2 linked regions of the Homo sapiens genome follow. The protein of the gene in region 2 interacts with the protein of the main gene of each other region in a pairwise test. Each region holds a gene or a part of one and is shown on either strand. Other genes may lie near its edges.

Evidence for each region.
Region 1: the proteins of GIMAP1 (region 2) and ERGIC3 interact in binary tests that used the Homo sapiens proteins (3 or more experiments, as listed by UniProt).

Annotation. Positions count from the first base shown.
Region 1 is NC_000020.11:35,552,078-35,555,105, reverse strand, and holds part of ERGIC3 (endoplasmic reticulum-Golgi intermediate compartment protein 3), read right to left. Parts: intron 735-3,028; coding exon of another isoform or gene 720-734; intron 63-719; coding exon 31-62; intron 1-30. UniProt on the Homo sapiens protein: Possible role in transport between endoplasmic reticulum and Golgi. Positively regulates trafficking of the secretory proteins SERPINA1/alpha1-antitrypsin and HP/haptoglobin.
Region 2 is NC_000007.14:150,722,199-150,724,784, reverse strand, and holds the end of GIMAP1 (GTPase IMAP family member 1), read right to left. Parts: 3' UTR 501-2,586; downstream 1-500. UniProt on the Homo sapiens protein: May regulate lymphocyte survival. Required for normal levels of mature T-lymphocytes and mature B-cells.

The sequences.
Region 1 (3,028 bases), on a different chromosome or scaffold from region 2:
TGCCCTCCATGGTTTCCATCTGGTACGTACGTTGTCAAGGCCAAAGCTCTGCAAGTCATGGACTAGGAGAGAAGGGAGAAGGCAAGGGAGAAGGCGTCATTAGTAGGAGCAGCACTGGCCTCCTCCTTCCTCCCCCTGGACTGCAAACCACCTGTCTTCTCTGCCCCTCATTCCTTCTCCAGCCTGGCACCTCCTGGTCCTGCTTAAGGACAGCCAGAAAGGGCAAGCCTTGGGCCTGTGTGAGAGTTCACGCCCTCCTCAGGAGTCTTTAGAACAGACCCTGGTTCCTCCCTGACGTCCACAGGGAACTCTATGCCTTGACTACCACCATGGCCCTGCCTGCATCTCCGGAAACAAAACCCACCGACTATGGGCTCTCACTAACTAGAGCTGATGGCAAATCACTGAACCTCAAAGTGAGGTGGGATCTGAGAATGCCATCCACACTTTCCCTGCCTCCACCCTCAAAGCTCCCCAGAAGAAATCCCATGGGGACCCTGTACCAACTGTTCCAGAACAATTTATTCCTGCCCTCTAGCCTCAATCCCTCCTGCTGCAAGGAACCATACTTCAAAGATACATCCCAGACCTTTTACAGTCACCCAGCAGCCAGGTCAGAGGAGACCCAATCACAGCCCCATCCAACCTCCCCGCCATTCTAGTAGGGCAGGCTGCCCCAGAAGTAGGGGTTTGGCCTCCATGGGGGCAGGGCCACTTACTCTCCACAGCATGTACTGCAGCATGGGGGAGGGAGGAGAGAGAAGAAAGATTCAGAGCTTCACAATGAGAACTATGAGAGCAAGATATGTTGCAGGAGGGAAGACTGGAACATTCAGCCTCAGCAACACAGTCTGGCCCCAGCTAACAAGCCTCCTTCTGGGCCCCTCCTCGAGAGTGAACTAATCTGGCCAGAGAGGAGCAAAATAGTGGCCTAGAAGGACAAGAGGCCTAGAGCTCAAAGAGCCAAGTTCCTGACTGTGTGGCCTTGGGCAAATCAGTTGCCCTTTCTGGGCCTCAGTGTTCTCCTTTGCAAAGGGCTGTCCTAAGGATCACGTGGGATCTAAGATGGAAAAATACTTGTAAACTTTACACTGTAAGAGATTATTACCCACCCCAGCCCCAATCAACAAGGATGTTAGAAACTCACTCCCAGGCCTCAATTCAGCCAGATCTCTGGCCTTGGGCAACTGTACCTTTGCATTTATACATCCTTCCAAATACAGAGCACCCCCGGCCCGGGGATCCACAAGTCTAACAGTCCCAGGCCAAGAGGCTGCCACTCTGGCTGTGTGTCTACTGAGTGCCCGCCAGACCTTGTGCCAACAGCTTGACACTGATCATCTTCCTGCCCTCCCAGCAAGACCCTTTTCTCCCAGCTTCCTCCAGAGTGAAGAGGGGGTCCCAGAGCTCTGCAGGGTCCTCCAGCCCCCACACTGGCCCCTCCCCAACACAGCCCCACCCCCACAGATTGCCCTGAAGACCAGCAGAGCTACCCTCCAGGGGGCCCTTTCTTCCTGTTCACTTCAACCATTTTGAGAGGCCATCTTCATACCCTGGGCTCTGTCACTGTGCAGCTCTGTCCATCCTTTACTGTGACACCAACTCCCACCTTCCCCAACCCTGCCTTCAACCCCTGGGTTCCTCTTCACTTTCTTGCTTCAGCCTGGCTCTTCCTTTCAGGCACTAACTCCCTGGCATCCCCTCAACGTGCGACTATCTTCTCTCCATACACAACCTCTTCCCTGGCCTAAAGAGAAGTCTTTCTTGCTCCTTACTGCCACTTCCAGATCACTTTCCCTTTATCTGCCTTAAAAATGCACAATGGCTCACATCTGTAATCCCAACATTTTGGGGGGCCAAGCGGGAGGATCACTTGAGCCCAGGAGCCTGGGCAACATGGCAAGACCCTGTCTCTGCAAAAAAAAAAAAAAAAATTAGCCAGGCATGGTGGCATGTGCCTGTGGTCTCAGCTCCTTGAGAGGCTGAGGTGGGAGGATCTCGAGTCCAGGAGGTCAAGGCTGCAGTGAGCCAAGATTGTGCCATGGCACTCCAGCCTCAAAAAAAAAAAAAAAAAAAAAAAAAAAATCCCCAGCTTTGAAGCTCAGGGCAAAGCAGCCCTGCTTGTTTCAGTCACCTAGATATCGATATGGAACCTCCAGAACAGTTTTCCCATGCCATTTTTCAACAGCTTGGGCAACTGCCTGTCACTCTCTCCTGTACTACCTCTGTCACACGTTCTAGTGATTTCCATATCCACGTAGATGATCCTTCCAGTACCCGGGCCTCCCAGTTCCTGGACATCCTTTCCTCCCTGATCTTGTGCTCTGCCTACCCAAGCCACTTGCTCTGTTGGCCATTCCCTAAACTTTGTCATTAACAAAGCCCCTTCTGTGACTTCAATTTCAAGCAACTCATGCTCCACCAGCTTTCTAATTTCCTCCAGTTCCCCAATTCCAATAACTTGTTGACACTACACTCAGGACTTGTAGTCCCTTTTTCCTCCTGCCCCCTCACTGGCTTCTCCACATCCTGTCTTTCCTCCTTTCCTAGCTCATATGCTGTGGTCCAGAATCAAGATGAGTTCTTTACATATTTGACTCCCTCACCTTTGCAGGCACCTGGCAACACCAAACCCCATGCAATTGCAATGTTCTGTTGACTGAGTCCATTCCCACACAGACAACCATGCTGACCGCTCTCTTTGCATTCACAGCCGCGGACTCCAGGGAGGCCCTAGGGCTGCATCAATCCTACTCAATCTCCCCAGTCCACGCACTCTTCCACCCCCAAGTGACCAGTCACATCTTTTCTTCTTTCAAATCTCCAACACCTCCTTCCCTCTCTCCTCATTCTCAACTGAGGACCTTCCTTCCTACAACACGGAGAAGATGGGAAGACTCAGAAGAGACTCTCCATGTACTTCTGCCACACCAGCTACCACCCTACCTGTACCTACAGAGCCTGCCCTTCCTCCTGGTGCTAAGTTTGGACTTTCCACATATGTAAGGCACTAGATTCTGTCTTCTTT
Region 2 (2,586 bases):
GATAATTCAGGCTTAAAACCTGGAGTTGATCCTTCTGCAGAACTGGAAGTCAGAAAGTCTTTCTTTCCTTTTTATTTCTTGAGATTGAGATGTCTATCCTTGGTGTGTGTGTGTGTGTGTGTGTGCGCGCGCGCACGTTTGCATGCATGCAAGTGTGTGTGTTTAATTTTTGAGCAGTGGTATGCAATTCTCTTCAGTGTTCATCATGATACATTCTGCTAGCATGTAGTAGAAAAGATAGTCTAGGAGTCTTCAGACGTATGAAGTCAAGAGGATATGCACAATATAACACCATTTTGAAAGTAAAAAAAGTCCAAGTGCCTAAACTTAGTGGTATGTAAAGAGAATTATGAGGAGGGAAAGAAAATATAAAAATATGAGAAGAATTAGGCAAAGAATGTGATTGAAAGTATAAAAATAAGACTCAAACCAATAATTATAACTAAACATCCAGTATATGGAGTGATAACTTCTTAAAGAAATAAAGAGGAGGGGACAAATTTGTAAGCATCTCAATAAAGTATTTTATTGGCAGAATAAGCAAGAACCGAATCTAGTTGCCTAAGAAGAGGCCAACATTGCCACTGTTAGATTAAGAATCATGGGGGAAAAATGAGTGTTGAGCCATAGTCTAGCTATAGCTTCCCCAAGAATTTACAGAAATTCTCTTCTGGGGTACTGAATCCATAGGTGAATCTCTGGAAGGAGCACTGGCATTTGCTAGGGCTACTGTGCGGGCTGGAACTGAATATTGATTGTGTAAGAATATGTAAGAATGTACTCTGCCTGAAATCTTTTGCTCTAAAAGTTCATCATGGCCAACACTAGCTTTCAGAAATAAGCCAGATACAAGTCTTTTTGTGTAGAACAAAAGCTGATCCAGGTACCAGGGCATAGAAATATGAACAGAAACATTATCAGCACAGGACCCATACATTTTTATCTTCCAAGAGATAAAAGGAGAGGAGAGGAAGGGGGACAATTGAAATGGATATATATTTACACAATTTTTGAGGTATTGGACAGTATTTTTACTGTGTCTGGTTAAAATTAGCAAGCAAGTTTTTCCAACAGGAGGCAGTGCTGTTTTATGCTGTAATTTAAGTATAAAATTGATTTGTGCTATCAAATCACTCAAATTACATAAGTGAGGTCACAAGGCCTAACCTTGAGCTATGGGGGAAAAAGCAACCTTTAAGCCACAGCCTAAAAAAAGACTTTACCGAAGGGAATGGTGAATGCCAACTGTTCTGTAGCAGGAGAAAAGGATAAAATAAGCTGAAAGGGGTGGAAATACAGTAATTTGGGGGACCCTGTGCTTGAAGGGAAGTAAATTTCCTTAGGGCAGGAGAATATCATTAATACAATGACATGCTTGCGCGAAAGAATTTTCTGTTATCTATGGTAGAAAATTTAGAAAATGGTCAAAAGTCTGGTAGCTAGAAATCTAATATTAAAAAGGTACAGGAAAGTCAACTTTACAATTCATTTTCCAAACATTTGTTGATCCCACTTTCTATGCCAGGCACTGGGTTGTATAACGGGGATACAAAGATGAAAAAAAAAAGATCATAATCAAAGTATCTGAAAAAGAAAACCACTAAAGAAATGTTATTGAATGTAAAGGAAAACTGTAACTTCTTTAATAATACATTATTCAAATTCAAAGATGATAGCACATTTTGAGATTCAGATTGGTAATGTATCTTTGATTACACTTTGCAAATGTATTTGACAATTAACCATATACTACTACTTTTTATTACTGAGGTAGGAGGCAGGACTAGACTCTGGAGGTGGGGATTGGGCTCCAGACCACACTGAAGACAAGCTGAAAGGGAAGAGGTGAAAGAGTCTCTCCATAAAACACACTCACCAGTGCCACGTCAGGTTACCATTGCTAAGGCAACAGCTGGAAGTTTTGGCTCCTTTCCATAGCAACAATCCCACGACCTGGAAGTTACGACCTTTTTTCTAGAAATTTTGGCATAATCCACCCCTAAATTTGCATATAGTTGAAAGTGGGTATAAATGTGATTGCAGTACTGCTTCCGAGCTGCTACTCTGGGCACACTGCCTATTGGGAGCCCTGCTCCACAAAGCAGCTTTGTTGCTGCTGTACATTAAACCACTTTGATAAAAGTTGTTGTCTAACACCAGCAGCAGCACTGGCTCGTGCGCAAGTGACCGTGGACGACCACGCTGTGCCCTCCCTGCTGTCCCCTCTGGTCATCAAAGGATCCTTCCCTGGCTCGAGGCCCCTGCCTGGGCCCAGAAAGGCTGCTGAGGAAGCGAAAGGCAGGAATTAAACATGGGTTTTTCTTGAGCCACGCTTCAAAAAGTCCAACTCCCTGCAGCGGTCACCAAGGCCCTCAGGACCCCTCACCATAGCCTGCCCGAAGCCCGCAACCCACCTGGAACCTCCTGCAGTCCTTAGCCTGAGCTGGCAATTGTGCGCATGCTTGCAGACCCCTTCTTCCCAACGTGTGCTGGGGAAGACCCTAGGGCGCCTGCGCACACTCCCTCCTCCTCTTCCTCTTGAATAGAGCTAATGTGAATACCTGCTTCCCATGTCTCCATGACCTC